Linked DNA regions of Homo sapiens: region 1 is linked to region 2. Evidence: fine-mapped expression QTL. Tissue or cell type: whole blood. Region 2 holds a variant in brackets; the other region holds the start of a gene. All regions are shown on one strand. Distances are between the middles of the regions.

Evidence for each region. PIP is the estimated chance that this variant, and not a neighbour inherited with it, causes the effect.
Region 1: it holds the start of LETM2, and the variant in region 2 is fine-mapped to the expression of LETM2 in whole blood (TOPMed, PIP above 0.99).

The regions. Positions count from the first base shown.
Region 1 is chr8:38,383,734-38,391,242 of GRCh38, reverse strand. It overlaps LETM2 (leucine zipper and EF-hand containing transmembrane protein 2), which reads right to left and starts at 4,767. Exons shown (of 11, transcript NM_001286819.2): 1 at 4,675-4,767; 2 at 3,213-3,293. The coding sequence starts at 3,259. RefSeq lists enhancers at 4,208-4,709, 4,831-4,910, 4,931-5,170, 4,863-5,492, 5,493-6,123 and 2 more and silencers at 4,051-4,100, 4,141-4,280.
Region 2 is chr8:38,408,058-38,418,700 of GRCh38, reverse strand. It overlaps FGFR1 (fibroblast growth factor receptor 1), which reads left to right. Exons shown (of 18, transcript NM_023110.3): 10 at 328-473; 11 at 710-831; 12 at 1,285-1,395; 13 at 2,641-2,831; 14 at 3,800-3,922; 15 at 4,072-4,142; 16 at 4,412-4,549; 17 at 4,678-4,783; 18 at 4,897-7,558. The coding sequence ends at 5,073. LOC102723716 (a long non-coding RNA gene) reads left to right here and starts at 5,690. Exons shown (of 4, transcript NR_188043.1): 1 at 5,690-7,807. It overlaps LETM2 (leucine zipper and EF-hand containing transmembrane protein 2), which reads right to left. Exons shown (of 11, transcript NM_001286819.2): 11 at 9,174-10,489. The coding sequence ends at 10,427. RefSeq lists enhancers at 1-538, 1,447-2,112, 2,553-3,323, 4,942-5,615, 5,616-6,288 and a silencer at 8,901-8,950. The variant C/T (reference allele first, on the strand shown) is at 4,918.

The DNA of each region.
Region 1 (7,509 bases), 26 kb after region 2:
AGATGTCTTTTTCCATTCTTTCAGTTTTTTGGTTTTTTTTTTTGTTTTTTTTTTTTTTTTTGAGACAGGAGGAGTCTCACTCTGTCACCCAGGCTGGAGTACAGTGGCATGATCACGGCTCACTGCAGCCATGACCTCCTAGGCTCATGTGGAAGAAATCAACACAAGTTCTCAACAGCTATAGAATTAAATGCATATGCAATATTCATTATTTTAGAACATGCCAAAAACAAAACCAAAAACAAAAGCAAAAAAAATTTGTCGCCAGGCACGCTGGCTCATGCCTGTAATCCCAGCACTTTGGGAGGCTGAGGAAGGTGGATCACGAGGTCAAGAGATCTAGACCATCCTGGCCAACATGGTGAAACCCCATCTCTACCAAAAATACAAAAATTAGCTGGGCGTGGTGGAGTGCACCTGTAGTCCCAGCTACTCGGGAGGCTGAGGCAGGAGAATTGCTTGAACCCAGGAGGCGGAGGCTGCAGTGAGCCAAGATTGCGCCACTGCACTCCAGCCTGGTGACAGAGCAAGACTCTGTCTCACAAAAAAACAAAAAACAAAAAACAAAAAAACAAAAATAAAAAATTTGTCTTGGTTCTTTTTTTTTTTTTTTTTTTTTCTGAGACAGAGTCTCACTCTGTTGCCCAGGCTGGAGTGCAGTGACGCGATCTTGACTCACTGCAACCTCCGCCTCCTGGGTTCAAATGATTCTCCTGCCTCAGCCTCCCGAGTATCTGGGAATACAGGTGCCTGCCACCACACCTGGCTAATCTTTATATTTTTAGTAGAGACGGGGTTTCACCATGTTGGCAAGACTGGTCTCGAACTGCTGACCTCAAGTGATCTGCCTGCCTTGGCCTCCCAAAGTGCTGGGATTACAGGTGTGAGCCATCACACCCGGCTCTTTTTTTTCTCTTTCTGTTTAAGACACAGAGTCTTGCTATGTTGCCCAGGCTGGCCTCAAACCCCTGGGCTAAAGCAATCTTCCTACCTCGGCCTCCCAAGGAGCTGAGATTACAGGCATATGCACCATGCCTGGCTTGGTTCTTAAGGTGTTAAAAACCGAGGCTGGAGTAGAGTGGTGTGATCACAGCTCACTGCAGCCTCGACCTCCCAGGCTCAGCATCCTGAGTAGCTAGGACTACAGGCCCGCACCACCACGCCCAGCTAGTTTTAAAAATTTTTGTAGAGATGAGGTCTTGCTATGTTATCCAGGCTGTTCTTTTTTTTTTTTTTTTTTTTTTGAGACGGAGTCTCACTCTGTTGCCCAGACTGGAGTGCAGTGGTGTGATCTCGGCTCACTGCAACCTCCACCTCCCAGGTTCAAGCGATTCTCCTGCTTTAGCCTCCTGAGTAGCTGGGACTACAGCTGCATGCCACCACGTCCAGCTAATTTTTGTATTTTTAGTAGAGACGGGGTTTCACCACATTGGCCAGGATGGTCTCGATCTCTTGACCTTGTGGTCCACCCGCCTCGGCCTCCCAAAGTGTTGGGATTACAGGCGTGAGCCACAGTGCCTGGCCCCAGGCTGTTCTTGAACTCCTGGGCTCGAGCTATCTTCCTGTCTAGGCTTCCAAAAGTACTGAGATTATAGGTGTGAGCCACTGCAGCCAGCCTCAGACTATTTTTGAAGCATGCCAAGATAAAACGCTCTTTGAATGGCCAAAAAGGGAAAAGTAAGTGCTCAGTGAATAGTCTTTAGTCTCAGTGAATAAATAAATGGTGGCCGGGCACGGTGGCTCACGCCTGTAATCCCAGCAGTTTGGGAGGCTGAGGTGGGTGGATCACTTGAGGTCAGGAGTTCAAGATCAGCCTGGCCAACATGGAGAAACACCATCTCTATAAAAATACAAAAAAATTAGCTGGGCATGGTGGCCCATGCCTGTAATCCCAGCTACTCGGGAGGCTGAGACAGGAGACTCACTTGAACCCAGGAGGCAGAGGTTGCAATGAGCCAAGATTGTGCCATTGCACTCCAGCTTGGGCAATAGAGCGAGATTTCATCTCAAAAATAAATAAATAAATAAATAAATAAATAATGGTAACAGACCCTAATGGGACACGAATATGCCCTAAGACTGGCTGTTCATCAGCCATTTTACTCGCTTTACATCTAAGGACCTCACGTGATGTTCATCAATTACAGAGATGTCACTCTAAAACCAGTACATCTTCTGGCTGGGCACAGTGGCTCACGCCTTTAATCCCAGCACTTTGGGAAGCCCAGGCTGGCGGATTACCTGAGGTCAGGAGTTCAAGACCAGCCTGGCCAACATGGCGAAACCCCATCTGTACTAAAAATACAAAAATTAGTGGGACATGGCGGCGCATGCCTGTAATCCCAGCTACTTGTGAGGCTGAGGCAGGAAAATCTCTTGAACCTGGGAGTTGGAGGTTGCAGTGAGCCAAGATATCATGCCACTGCACTCCAGCCTGGGCAACAGAGTGATAATCCGTCCCAAAAAAGAAAACAAAAACAAACAAACAAAAAAAACTACATCTTCTTTTCTTTTTTTTTTTTGAGATGGATTTTTACTCTTGTTGCCCAAGCTGGAGTGCAGTGGCCCAGTCTTGGCCCACTGCAACCTCCGCCTCCCAGGTTCAAGCGATTCTCCTGTCTCAGCCTCACAAGTGCTGGGATTATAGGTACCTGCCACCATGCCGGCTAATTTTTGCAGTTTTAGTAGAGACGGGGTTTCACCATGTTGGTCAGGCTGGTCTTGAACTCCTGACCTCAGGCAATCCGCTCGCCTTGGCCTCCCAAAGTGCTGGGATTACAGGTGTGAGCCACTGCACCCAGCCTCCAAGAAACTTTTAATTGTGTACTAAGCCAATCCTTTCCATCTAGAAGGATGAAATTCAGGCCAGGCGAGGTGACTCACGCCTGTAATCCCAGCACTTTGGGAGCCCAAGGCAGGCGGATCACCTAAGGTCAGGAGTTCCAGAGCAGCCTGGCCAACATGGTGAAACCTCGTCTCTACTGAAAATACAAAGATTAGCCGGAGGTGGTGGCAAACACCTGTAATCCCAGTTACTTGGAGGCTGAGGGAGGAGAGTAGCTTGAACCCGGGAGGCAGAGGTTGCAGTGAGCCGAGATTGCACCATTGAACTCCAGCCTGGGCGACAGAGTGCGACTCCATCTCAGAAAAAAAAAAAAAAAAGAAGAAGAAGAAGAATTACGTTCATATTGGGGGGTAACTCCAATGCTTACCTTGTTCGAGCAATAGCCAGAACTGAATTATAACTGTAGAAGGCCATATTTATTTTTGTCTCAAGTAGTTAACATAGGGACCTAGGCAAAAGGAGTAAGTAAACAATTTAGTAGTTTAAAAATACATCAATTAAAAGACATCAGGATTTTAGTGTTTTTAACTATTGCAAAGGTAGAACATTTGCATAGTTAAGGTACAAAACCTCCTTCAAGCTCATTTCCAACAATCAGATATTTTCGTAGCTCTGGACTTGAGAATGGTACTTTGAGATTCCAACAAACGGTAATGATCTCTAAGATGATGATGCTCATGAAGATGGTACAATCTTCAGAGACATTTTGATTTCTGGTCAATAGTATCTAGTAATGCAACTTCAATGATTGCCAAGTACTTAAAAGTAGAGCAATACATATCTATCTGTAGCCTTAAAATATAGGTAGAAAGTGAATATTCTGAATTTCTTTTCAGTTAGCATTGTTCTATATTTAGGCAAGTTGTCCCAAACCCTGAATATTGGACGTACCCACTAATCTAATTTATGTAGCAGTGGATGAAGGTAGACATGCAACCTACTAATCGCTCAAGTGGAGGTAAAACTGTTTCCCTTGCTACTGATTCTCCAGAGCCCAAACTGAGCTTTGAACCTGTAAATAACCTTCACCAAAACCCATCTCCATCCAGGGGCGCTTTTCTGCTAAGGGCCGCGAGGAACGGCAGAAGAGCTGACATTCCCAATGGCAGCTTTGCTCTCTTGTGGTTGGGAAAAGAGTTCCAGGAGCTCTCCTGAATAGAAACCTTAGCCACAGAGCTGACATTTTCAACAGGGGCTCGAAACCTGTGGACCCACACTAACGGTGGGTGGTGTTTCGCGGGCAGGAGACGACACCTGAGGCGGCGGTTAATCCGCTCGGGCCCGGGCGCTCCCGGGCGGCGGACACCACTCGCACTCGCATTGGCGCCGCCCCACGCCCGCTGCTCCCGGGCTCCCTCGGCTTTGCCCATCACCACACGGGAGCAAAACGCGCCCTCGGCTTCCTCGCCCGGCGGCTTCGGCGCGCCTGATGTGTGCGCGGCCTGCATGCGGCGGGGTCTGGGGGATATGCTTTGGTTTTCTGGTGCGGAGGTGGGACAGGCACGGGAACGACGACCCTCGTGGATGATCGGGGTTGTTGGAAATGAAGCCGAGGAGAAAGAAGCAGGGCCTGGGACGGAAAAAAGGACGGAGCGCGCTGTGCGGGGAAGGGGGAGGAGAGGCCGAGCTTCAGAGTTCGCGCTGTGCTGGGGAACTGGCGGGGATGAGGTCGTGGGTGGAGGAGAGCGCGGTGGGAACTGGAAGCTGTCAGAAGCCTGGATCATGCTCTGATGAGAGGAGCAGGATGCGGACCGAGCGGGATCCGGAGGAAAAAAAGGCAGCGCGGCCCACCAGGTCGCGGCCTGAGGGCTGGGCCTGCCCACCCCTACCTCCTCGGCCGGGCTCCGCGGAACGGCCGCCTAGGTCCTCCCAGCTCCTTCCCGGGACCCCCAAGCTAGAAGGGCCCGAAGCCAAGTCTCTACGGTTCCGCCTCTTTCCTCGCCCCTGACGTCACTCTGAGTGACGACATCGCCAACCAATAAGCTCTCAAGTTCTGGGGAGGGCGGGCGTCCTTCACCTTAGCAGCCCAGGAAGCCGCAAAGTCGCGTTTACATCGCCGAAGTGACTTCTTTGTGGGGCTTGGTTTAAGGCGCGTTGGTGCTGGGGGGCCCGAAGGTGACGTTTTTCTGCCAGTCCACACTCCGCAGGCAGTGGCTAACGCCCGAGGAAACCCGTGATTGAAGACTGGATTAAACAGGCTCTTTCCCTGACAGCTTAATATGTCTGATAGTCGCCATGGTAACCATTTCGGAGTCATGAATGACATCACTTTGATGTATTCTCCCTCGGACCCTGCAAATCCGGAACTGCCAGAGGGGCGCTGAGAGGATTTGATGGTGTCGCAGAAAGGGCGGGAATCGGAAGGAGCGCATTCCTCTCCCTTCCTCTCCAGAGGCTGGAATACTGTGAAATCTTCATATGGAAATCTGTATTCTACTAAAAATATTTGCTTTCTCAATGGTCCCTTAACAAGTGTTGTTTGTGATTAATAATTTGTATAGAAATCTCAGCATATAAAATGTATGTTATAGTAGCTGTGAAATGACAGACACTGCAGGTTTGAGGGCACTTCAGTTCCTAGGATGGCCAACTGAGCCATCTTGGGAAAATGAAACATCTAGAAATATTCTCATTCCCCAGTTATCTTTTCCCATCCATTTTATCTGGCTCCAGAAGAAAGAGTTAAAAATTTTTTTTATTTAGGCTGGGCGCGGTGGCTCACGCCTGTGATCCCAGCACTTTGGGAGGCCGAGGCGGGCGGATCACAAGGTCAGGAGACAGAAAACATCTTGGCCAACATGGTGAAACCCTGTCTCTACTAAAAAAAAATACAAAAATTAGCCGGGCATGGTGGCGTGCGCCTGTAGTTCCGGCTACTCTGGAGGCTGAGGCAGGAGAATCGCTTGAACCCGGGAGGCAGGGGTTGCAGTGAGTCGAGATCGCGCCACTGCACTCCAGCCTGGGCGACAAGAGCGAGATTCCACCTCAAAAAAAAATTTTTTTTTTCTTAGTGGCTCTACTCGACCACCATACAGCAAGGAATCGCTTTCTCACGGAGAATACGTCTCCTGACATGTGAGCTGACCACAGACTTTACTCATCTGGGCTACACATTTTTAAGAATGGAAGATGGCGGTATTAAACGTCAGTAAAAAATGCAGACTGCTTTTAATCCACAAAGGATTTTTCAGCTAATAACCAAATAGATCCACTGTTAAATAGGCAAAACTTTTCAGTTTGGCCACTAGAGGTCTCTTTGTGCATGTCTGATGTTCAACTTTGCACATAAAGGTTTCACTTCACGTTCTGTTTACCAGTATTAAAATCTACAAAGCTTTGGACTCTTTACTTTTCCCTCACTGAAAATTCCTGGTGGTCAAATTTTGAGCTCTAGAAGGTAGATGTAGTTTTCACACTAATTTCATAAATTAATCATTGCACTACCATGTACTGGTACTTTTCTGGAAAAGATCTTAAAGGATGCAAAAATATTTTCAGTTCCCTGGGAGACATTTTATACGGGGAAATATTCTTATTCATGCATTGTATTCACTTACAACCAGGCACAGTGAATATCATTAAGTATTCATAAACCAGATGAACGATTCCATGCCCAGTATTTGAAAGATGAGCTAGGTTTTCTACCATGGCCATATGTCAGCAATCCTATCCTAAAAAGGGAAGGGCTAAGAACTCTTCTTATTGAGATATCTGTTCAAAGTAATGTCCGTCTTCCCTAGTTATGAGACTTGGCAATTTCTTTGACTTTCAGGATAAGAGATTTATCATGTAAGATTCTGTATGTAATCTTCAGAAGAGAAATTTTTAAAAAAATATTTTTTCCTCCATGACTCTGGCCCTGAGAATTGTGTTAGATTGCTGTCTTAATGAGCTCCTTGTTCATTTTCTATGGCGAACAGTAAGCATCGTCTAAACCTCAGAAGATGTTAGATACTGAAAATGTAAACTATTATTTTTAATGGCCATTTTCCTAAATATGCCACCAGATCAAGTATACTAACTGTATTTTGTAATGTTTTGCAGGAAAAGACTATGCATCTACTTCACATAACTCCAATTTTAAACTCTTGCTGTCAGCATAGCTATTAGAAACAGGCTAATATAAGATCCCTGGGGACAATTTACTAGATTCTCCTCAAGGGAGAAACCCAGGTGCCGGGTCAAGGCAACAGTTTATCAACAAAGCAAGGAAGACACAGGAGGAAGAAAAAGAAGAATGGAGGTAGAAAGGCTCATAGAAAAAAAAAAAAGACCAATTTAATCCCTCTTTCCTGGAGATAGAATTAAGCTAGACTTGGTGGCCCGCTTTGGCCATCTGTGTTTTAAAATGTCATATCACAAATAAAAAGTATGCTTTTACTGATAGCTGTAACTTGTGGTACTACTTAAAGCATACGTTTAAAAATATTTAATGATTAATAGTAATGAGATTTTTTTTTTTTTTTTTGAGACATAGCCTCTCTGTGTCGCCCAGGCTGGAGTGCAGTGGCGCGATCTCGGCTCACTGCAAGCTCCGCTTCCCGGGTTCACGCCATTCTCCTGCCTCAGCCTCCTGAGTAGCTGGGACTACAGGCGCCCCCCACCACGCCCGGCTAATTTTTTGTATTTTTAGTAGAGACGGGGTTTCACCGTCTTAGCCAGGA
Region 2 (10,643 bases):
TAAGGCAAAGTATTTGCAAAGAGTCAGGAGAACAGAGTTGTTACTGCAATGATCAGTTATAAAATGTCAAGCTGGAAGAGGTGCATTTGGTCTGCTTATTTTAAAGGTGAGTGAAGTCCAGAAAGGCCAGCTTGTGGCAGAAATAGGTCAGTCCTAGAAGTTGGGCCTCCTGGCCTACCATGGTCTTTGGACCACTCTGTGTTGAGGAAAGAACATCAGATACACAGACATGTGCCTCTGCCATTGTTGGGAAGCCCTGACTAAGAATGGGAAGGAGTCACCCCGTCCCCCCTCCTTGCTCTAGGGTGACCCCACTCTTCCTTGCAGGTGTCTGCTGACTCCAGTGCATCCATGAACTCTGGGGTTCTTCTGGTTCGGCCATCACGGCTCTCCTCCAGTGGGACTCCCATGCTAGCAGGGGTCTCTGAGTATGAGCTTCCCGAAGACCCTCGCTGGGAGCTGCCTCGGGACAGGTAATAATACTTTGACTCCCAACTTTTTGAAGGCATTCCTTGCTTGCTATTCTAGTGGTGGAAGGTGTGTATACTAACACCTTCTGGGCGGTGAAGGTTCATGAAATGCCTGCAGAAACATTCATTCCACTTTCTGCTCGCAGTTGGGTGAAATACAGAGAGGTGGAGATGGGGTGCCTCTCAAGGTTTGAACTTCACCAGCCCCAACTTATGCCACTCTCTGTTTCCCCCGAAAGACTGGTCTTAGGCAAACCCCTGGGAGAGGGCTGCTTTGGGCAGGTGGTGTTGGCAGAGGCTATCGGGCTGGACAAGGACAAACCCAACCGTGTGACCAAAGTGGCTGTGAAGATGTTGAAGTGTAAGTGATGCTTCTGTCCTTGCAAAGAAAATCTTGTCCCATTCCAAGCAAACAGCAGGCCTCGGGCCCAGCAGAACAGCTTCTCTGGTGCCTTTGCTGCCCACACCTGCTCCGCTGCCTGCTTGGGGTTACCTGGGAGTGGAGGGGGTGTTCTGCACCTTGAGATTGTTCTATGACGTCACTCTGTTCCTTGGCGTCAACCTGGGCTGTGGTCAGGTGTTTATCCTGGATCCATCGCTTGCAGGCTTTCCTCACCACATCCCTGCCCACTCACTACCACCTATTGCAACAACGGCTCCCATGAGAGGGAAGAGAAAACAAGTTTGGATGAAGTGGGGAGGAGAGAATCAAGTCCCAGGGAAAAGCAGCCCCTCGACACATACCCCACTCCCTTAGCCTTTATCCTGCCCTCCTCCCTTCCCAAGTAAATGAGTCTCAACGTGTTCTTTAAAGCGGACGCAACAGAGAAAGACTTGTCAGACCTGATCTCAGAAATGGAGATGATGAAGATGATCGGGAAGCATAAGAATATCATCAACCTGCTGGGGGCCTGCACGCAGGATGGTGGGTGCCGGCCAGACTGGCTTTCCCTGCCCAGCGGGGAGAAGATCTGAGCTGGGGTATCAGTCCCAAGGCCTCTCTCAGCCACAGCTAGGGAAGGGGGTTAAGAGAGGCTGCTTTGGCAGAGGTTTAAAATGTGTTATCTCGGGATCTGGGCTCCGCTCATTGGTGTTCATTCAGGAATACAGATACCTAGATTCACACACGTGGTGTGTTAACAGAGGCAGCTGAGTAATTATGGTCTAAGAGCGCTCAGGCTGGGTGCAGTGGCTCATGCCTGTAATCCCAGCAATTTGGGAGGCCGAGGCAGGAAGATCACTTGAGATCAGGAGTTCGAGACCAGTCTGGTCAAAATGGTGAAACCCCATCTCTACTAAAAAATACAAAAGTTAGCCAGGCATGGTCACGCATGCCTATAATCCCAGCTACTCAGGAGGCTGACGCATAAGACTTGCTTGAACCCGGGAGGTGGAGGTTGCAGTGAGCCAAGATCACGCCATTGTACTCCAGCTTGGGAGATACTCCCGCTGTCTCAAAAATAAAATAAATAAATAGGCCAGGCACAGTGGCTCACGCCTGTAATCCCAGCACCTTGGGAGGGTGAGGCGGGTGGATCACTTGAGGTCAGGAGTTGGAGACCAGCCTGGCCAACAGGTGAAACCCCATCTCTACTAAAAATACAAAAAGTAGCCGGGCGTGGTGGCGCATGCCTGTAATTCCAGCTACTCGGGAGGCTGTGGCAGGAGAATCGTTTGAACACGGGAGGCGGAGGTTGCGGTTAGCCGAGATCGCGCCATTGCACTCCAGCTTGGGCAACGAGCAAAACTCCATCTCAAAAAAAAAAAAAAAAAAAAAAAAAATTAGCCAGGCATTGTTCATGCCTGTAATCCCAGCTGCTTGGGAGGCTGAGGCAGGAGAATCACTTGAATCCAGAAGGCAGAGGTTGCAGTGAGCCGAAATTGCGCCACTGCACTCCAGCCTGGGCAACAGAGTGAGACTCCATCTCAAAATAAACAGACAAACTGGGGCTCTTACCCCAATGTTGCTCGGGAATTTTCTGGACTATGCTGGGAGTAATTATTTCTCTGATTTTTTTTGGGTAGTAGAATGGATTTCCCAGGTCCCCTAAGAGGAGGCAGGAGATGGGAGGTTGGCCGGGGTGTGCTGCTGGGGGTGGGGTTTCTTTGAGGTGAAGCCAAACCTGCTCACCTGCTGCTGGCCCCATGGCCTCTTCTCCTGTGCCTGCAGGTCCCTTGTATGTCATCGTGGAGTATGCCTCCAAGGGCAACCTGCGGGAGTACCTGCAGGCCCGGAGGCCCCCAGGGCTGGAATACTGCTACAACCCCAGCCACAACCCAGAGGAGCAGCTCTCCTCCAAGGACCTGGTGTCCTGCGCCTACCAGGTGGCCCGAGGCATGGAGTATCTGGCCTCCAAGAAGGTGTGGAACCTGAAGGCTCCCCTGGGTAATGCCAGGGTGGGAACAGAGCCCCCCTAGTCTTCCAGCCTGTGACTTATCATCTTGTGGTGGCGTTGTGGATGCACTGAGCACTGGCCCTGTGTGCCCTGTGTGTTGTCTTAGGCTCTCTGGGAACTGCAGAGTCAGGAGCACCAGTGTAGCCAGGTGGCCTTGGGGTCAGACTGATGCAGGGTCCGATCTGTGCACTGCCACTTTCTGCGTAGCCTCAGGCAGCTACTTAGCATCTTAAAATTCTTCAAATACAAAATAATAATAATATCAGCTGGGTGCAGTGGCCAAGGCGGGAGGATTGCTTGAGCTCAGGAGTGTGAGACCAGGTTGGGCAATATATTGAAACCCCGTCTTTAAAAAAAAAAAAAAAATTAAAAAATTAGCTGGGTGTGGTAGTGCGTGCCGATAGTCCCAGCTACTCGGGAGGCTGAGGTGGGAGGCTAGCTTGAGCCCAAGAGTTTGAGGCTGCACTGAGCCATGATCACACCACTGCACCCCAGCCGGGGCGACAGAGCAAGGCCCTGTCTCAAAAGAAAATAAAGTATAACAATACCTGTTGTAGAATTGTTATGAAGATAAAATGAAACTGTCTGTGAGTGTTGAGTGCAGTGTTTGGTGTGTAAGGGCTGGCCTGGTTTGAGCCCAGCCCCATGTGGACTTGCTGTGCTGGGAGGCAGGACCTAGGAGCATGCATCGCTGCAGACGCAGCAGAGGCATAAGGGGCCAGTCTTTGGGGAAGGAAGGGAGGAGCGCTTGCTGTGATGAGAAGCCTGGAGCTGGCAGAGAATGTTAGAAGAGGGAAAGCAAAGGTTCGGGGGGCAGAGCAGTGTGGCAGAAGTTCTATGAGACAAGTCGGCTAGTTGCATGGGTGGCGGCCGCCCAGAGCCTTCCAGCTCCCTCACCTCCCCGCCTCCCGCTCTCCCTTCCTCCTTCCTCAGTGCATACACCGAGACCTGGCAGCCAGGAATGTCCTGGTGACAGAGGACAATGTGATGAAGATAGCAGACTTTGGCCTCGCACGGGACATTCACCACATCGACTACTATAAAAAGACAACCAACGTGAGTGCCGACAAGGCCGCCCTGTGCTGGTGGTTTCATCTGAGAAGCAAGGAGTGGGGTGGGCTGAGAACCCACCCCCCAGTCCCTTCCCACCTGTGCCCTCATGGCCCTGCCTGGGGCCACTCCAACCTCCCCTGTGCTGCTTTCAGGGCCGACTGCCTGTGAAGTGGATGGCACCCGAGGCATTATTTGACCGGATCTACACCCACCAGAGTGATGTGTGAGTTTGTAATAGCAATTGCCAGGGAGGTGTGGGATAGAGAGCTTCTAGCACTGTAGAGTCCTGCTTTCTCCCTGGACTGAGGAGTCCTCTTTCTGCCCCAGAGAGAAAAACAAAACATTGTCTGTGGCCATTCCCTCTGCTCCAGATGTTGAAAGGCTGATCTGTTCTCCATGCTGTCTCCTGGCACTGCCCTGGGTAGAGGATTTGTGCTGGGGGAGGGGAGGCGGAGAAGCTCTAACACCCTGTGGCTCTCCGCCCATTTGCAGGTGGTCTTTCGGGGTGCTCCTGTGGGAGATCTTCACTCTGGGCGGCTCCCCATACCCCGGTGTGCCTGTGGAGGAACTTTTCAAGCTGCTGAAGGAGGGTCACCGCATGGACAAGCCCAGTAACTGCACCAACGAGCTGTAAGCCCGAGGAGATGTCGGAGGCCCTGAGCCAGGCCTTGGGGCAAGAGTGGGCTTGAGGGGCAGGGGGCTAGACTAGAGAGTATCCATCTCCAGGAGACGTCCCTGACCTTACAGTCCTGCCGCAGGTACATGATGATGCGGGACTGCTGGCATGCAGTGCCCTCACAGAGACCCACCTTCAAGCAGCTGGTGGAAGACCTGGACCGCATCGTGGCCTTGACCTCCAACCAGGTAAGGCTGCCCGTGCCAGAGCCAGAGCTCAGGCCGTCCCCACTGCGTGCACGCACCTCCCTGAGCAGGGAGGAGGGGCCCGGCCCATCGCTGCTTCCTCTCGCCCATCACAGGAGTACCTGGACCTGTCCATG[C/T]CCCTGGACCAGTACTCCCCCAGCTTTCCCGACACCCGGAGCTCTACGTGCTCCTCAGGGGAGGATTCCGTCTTCTCTCATGAGCCGCTGCCCGAGGAGCCCTGCCTGCCCCGACACCCAGCCCAGCTTGCCAATGGCGGACTCAAACGCCGCTGACTGCCACCCACACGCCCTCCCCAGACTCCACCGTCAGCTGTAACCCTCACCCACAGCCCCTGCTGGGCCCACCACCTGTCCGTCCCTGTCCCCTTTCCTGCTGGCAGGAGCCGGCTGCCTACCAGGGGCCTTCCTGTGTGGCCTGCCTTCACCCCACTCAGCTCACCTCTCCCTCCACCTCCTCTCCACCTGCTGGTGAGAGGTGCAAAGAGGCAGATCTTTGCTGCCAGCCACTTCATCCCCTCCCAGATGTTGGACCAACACCCCTCCCTGCCACCAGGCACTGCCTGGAGGGCAGGGAGTGGGAGCCAATGAACAGGCATGCAAGTGAGAGCTTCCTGAGCTTTCTCCTGTCGGTTTGGTCTGTTTTGCCTTCACCCATAAGCCCCTCGCACTCTGGTGGCAGGTGCCTTGTCCTCAGGGCTACAGCAGTAGGGAGGTCAGTGCTTCGTGCCTCGATTGAAGGTGACCTCTGCCCCAGATAGGTGGTGCCAGTGGCTTATTAATTCCGATACTAGTTTGCTTTGCTGACCAAATGCCTGGTACCAGAGGATGGTGAGGCGAAGGCCAGGTTGGGGGCAGTGTTGTGGCCCTGGGGCCCAGCCCCAAACTGGGGGCTCTGTATATAGCTATGAAGAAAACACAAAGTGTATAAATCTGAGTATATATTTACATGTCTTTTTAAAAGGGTCGTTACCAGAGATTTACCCATCGGGTAAGATGCTCCTGGTGGCTGGGAGGCATCAGTTGCTATATATTAAAAACAAAAAAGAAAAAAAAGGAAAATGTTTTTAAAAAGGTCATATATTTTTTGCTACTTTTGCTGTTTTATTTTTTTAAATTATGTTCTAAACCTATTTTCAGTTTAGGTCCCTCAATAAAAATTGCTGCTGCTTCATTTATCTATGGGCTGTATGAAAAGGGTGGGAATGTCCACTGGAAAGAAGGGACACCCACGGGCCCTGGGGCTAGGTCTGTCCCGAGGGCACCGCATGCTCCCGGCGCAGGTTCCTTGTAACCTCTTCTTCCTAGGTCCTGCACCCAGACCTCACGACGCACCTCCTGCCTCTCCGCTGCTTTTGGAAAGTCAGAAAAAGAAGATGTCTGCTTCGAGGGCAGGAACCCCATCCATGCAGTAGAGGCGCTGGGCAGAGAGTCAAGGCCCAGCAGCCATCGACCATGGATGGTTTCCTCCAAGGAAACCGGTGGGGTTGGGCTGGGGAGGGGGCACCTACCTAGGAATAGCCACGGGGTAGAGCTACAGTGATTAAGAGGAAAGCAAGGGCGCGGTTGCTCACGCCTGTAATCCCAGCACTTTGGGACACCGAGGTGGGCAGATCACTTCAGGTCAGGAGTTTGAGACCAGCCTGGCCAACTTAGTGAAACCCCATCTCTACTAAAAATGCAAAAATTATCCAGGCATGGTGGCACACGCCTGTAATCCCAGCTCCACAGGAGGCTGAGGCAGAATCCCTTGAAGCTGGGAGGCGGAGGTTGCAGTGAGCCGAGATTGCGCCATTGCACTCCAGCCTGGGCAACAGAGAAAACAAAAAGGAAAACAAATGATGAAGGTCTGCAGAAACTGAAACCCAGACATGTGTCTGCCCCCTCTATGTGGGCATGGTTTTGCCAGTGCTTCTAAGTGCAGGAGAACATGTCACCTGAGGCTAGTTTTGCATTCAGGTCCCTGGCTTCGTTTCTTGTTGGTATGCCTCCCCAGATCGTCCTTCCTGTATCCATGTGACCAGACTGTATTTGTTGGGACTGTCGCAGATCTTGGCTTCTTACAGTTCTTCCTGTCCAAACTCCATCCTGTCCCTCAGGAACGGGGGGAAAATTCTCCGAATGTTTTTGGTTTTTTGGCTGCTTGGAATTTACTTCTGCCACCTGCTGGTCATCACTGTCCTCACTAAGTGGATTCTGGCTCCCCCGTACCTCATGGCTCAAACTACCACTCCTCAGTCGCTATATTAAAGCTTATATTTTGCTGGATTACTGCTAAATACAAAAGAAAGTTCAATATGTTTTCATTTCTGTAGGGAAAATGGGATTGCTGCTTTAAATTTCTGAGCTAGGGATTTTTTGGCAGCTGCAGTGTTGGCGACTATTGTAAAATTCTCTTTGTTTCTCTCTGTAAATAGCACCTGCTAACATTACAATTTGTATTTATGTTTAAAGAAGGCATCATTTGGTGAACAGAACTAGGAAATGAATTTTTAGCTCTTAAAAGCATTTGCTTTGAGACCGCACAGGAGTGTCTTTCCTTGTAAAACAGTGATGATAATTTCTGCCTTGGCCCTACCTTGAAGCAATGTTGTGTGAAGGGATGAAGAATCTAAAAGTCTTCATAAGTCCTTGGGAGAGGTGCTAGAAAAATATAAGGCACTATCATAATTACAGTGATGTCCTTGCTGTTACTACTCAAATCACCCACAAATTTCCCCAAAGACTGCGCTAGCTGTCAAATAAAAGACAGTGAAATTGACCTGAGAGAAAATGAAATGGCCGTTTTACTTAGAGGACCAAATTGGGTCTCCTGAGGAAAGGAATCCAGTTTATCTAATGAAGATGTTGTGCCATGAAGGCACTGAGTCTGTCTGGTTTCCTGAGGGTTAAAAGATTAGGGCTGGGATCACCACAGCATTAATCAATACTGCCTTTCCGTCTCTTCTAATTGCCATAGGCTGGAGATCATCGGTCCCTTGGCCCTGCTAATGTAATGTATTGATCTCAGGTAAGTAAGATTGAGCATCAAATGAGGCAAGAAATCTGTCTCATTGTTAATGAGGTTGCTGTGCTTATTCGCCACCACTGGGTGGAGCCAGCGAGCTGAAGTTTCAGTTGGCATTAGGTGAAGCACCAGTCCGCTCTCAAGTCACATTGGTCCAACTACTACCTGCTAGTGTGTGCTGGTGGTGAGTGGGAAATCTTTAGCCTAGATTTGGCATTACAGAAAAACTGGGCAGCACTGATGTGGCTCGTTTTGGGATGATTTTAGAATTAGACATGACACAGGTGCAAGGCCCTAAGTGTCAGTGGCCACCACCTCTCTATTGTAGCAGAATTGTGTGTAAGACCCAGGACACATCTAGCATCACTGTAGTTGGGTTTTTAGAGAATGCCTAAAGTGGCCAGGCATGGTGGCGCATGTCTGTAATCCCAGCACTTTGGGAGGCTGAGGCAGGCAGATCACCTGAGGTCGGGAGTTCAAGACCAGCCTGGCCAACATGGTGAAACCCCATCTCTACAAAAATACAAAAATTAGCCAGGCGTGGTGGTGCATGCCTTTAATCCCAGCTACTCCAGAGACTGCGGCAGGAGAATCGCTTGAACCCAGGAGGCAGACGTTGCAGTGACAAGATCGTGCCACTGCACTCCAGCCTGGGTGACAGCAAGACTGTCTCAAAAGAAAAAAAAAAAAAAAAAAAAAAATCTAAAGTCATACCCAATGAGATCATTAGTGGCAGGTAGAGCCAAGGCATCTGCATCTATAGAGAAGGGAGCAGAGAGGAGAAAGCTCTGAAACAGCTGGCACAGCCTTCCATTCCCTCCACTGAGGAGAGCCAGGGAAGAAGGTGGTCAGTAAGAACCCAACTGCTAAGACTTGGTCTGGGCGGGTTCCTTCTAGGTGGACCGTCAACAGTATTCAGGACCATTTCCACCATACTGCCCTACATGCAGGTCTTCGCGTGCAGAAGGGATCTATTTCATAAACATGCTAACTAGAGGTGTAACTTTCATTACCCCGGGAGGCTCAAAGAGTTGGTGGTTAACGATTTACCAGAACACCACTAGCTGGGGCTAGATGTAAGGATCACTGAACCCAACAGCCAAGCACCCTAAATGATGAGAACAACAAAACATCCTTGACTTCTCTGAGCTGCTAGCAGAAGAGTGGGAGGAGAGGTCTATCAAGTGGCCCGGGTCCCTTGACCAGGTCACTGCTCATTCCCACCCTGCTCGGAGGGAAAGCCAGAAGGAACTGTAGGACAGCCCAGCAGTACCTATGACTCATTCAGCTAAAACAGAATTGAGCAAGTTTAGCTAATCCCTTTCCCACATTTAACACCTGAAATGTGGACTAATTAAAATACCCGTCATTTTTGAAATGGGAAAGTGTATTGTGAATCACCTCGATAGGCAGGATCCATGATTGCTGTATGTGCACAGTAGGGATTCATCATTCCCAAAGAACTGGGCTTCATTAGTGGGACATGGTGGGGCTTCTCTGATGGAGCACAAATTTAGAAAGCATTGTAGAATGCATATTCTTGCTGTGAAGTGCTGGTGACATTCCTCATTTAGGTGATCCCAGACAGGACAGTGGAGTTTTACTTGTTTTAACTGACTGCTGTCTAACCACAGCAAGTAAAGAAATCTAATTTTATCACCTACAGGCTGAAATACCTTTGGCCTTCTAACCACTCCCCAGGGGAAGAAAGCCCTTGGTCAGCTGCATGGCAGTCTATCTATTATTTCATATTATTAATACTGAAAACACCAAGCATAAATATCCTAATGTAATACTTGTTGCTGGGTAGCACAGGGATTATATCAGACTTTCACAATCCCTATGACTAATAGTCTTATTTGTGAAAGACAAACTGGCCAGAAACACACACACCCAACACAAACATGGTTAAGGCTTAAACCCTTAATTATGCTTCCTAGCAAAATGGTGGCTAATGAAAGCCATATGTGCTAGAAGAGTGGCTGCCTCGCAGATTGCGGCTGCCTCACAGATTGCTGCAGCCTCTGCAGGCCCAAGATGGAGGTGTCGGAAGCAGCCAAATCTTTCTGATTGCCAGTCTGTTTCTCCAGGAAGCTTCATTATATCCAGAAAGATCTTACTGGGGAGTATATCCATCCCATCTCATAAGGTACTTTGTTTCCAGGGTGCTGATCCTACTGGTGGATCATTCAGAAAGTTAATCAGGTGCTCCTAAAATGGTTTTTGGAACTTCCAAGTTCTTACTCAGAATTCCAAGCCATAGGAGACAGGTATCTAAGGTGCCAAGCTGATTCCATTGTGCAAAAAATTTCCTCTCTGAAGGGACGTACACATGAAACTAAAAAAACAACATGATGGGGGGTGGGCTTTATACAAAGTTGAGTGGGGTGACAATGGTACAGAGGAAATGGGACTTTGCAATTATATTTTTCTAAGTGGTCTGAACTTGGTCTCACTACCCACATCACCTGGAATGGTTACCAGGCCTCAAAGGACTGCCCCACGGGCTAAACAGCTGATCCGCTCTCTGAAGCCAGACAGTCTTATCTGGGAGGTCCTTTACAGATGCCACTGTTGAGGGCCGGAAGCTGAAGAGAGTGAGCTCCATCCTCAAGTAGTCCTTTATGCTCCTTTTGAACTAGCCTTGCTGTTCTGGGCCGTCATTTGTGATTTGGCCTGGAGTGTCTAGGCGTAAAAAACAAGGACTGTAGGCATTAGTCACAGACGTGTAAGTTCTTAAGGAGTGAATGCTATTTTTGTTTTCTTAATCAAAATAGTGACCACAAAGTCAAATCTGAGATTATAATTTACCTTGGTAATAAAAGATAAAGGAGATTTA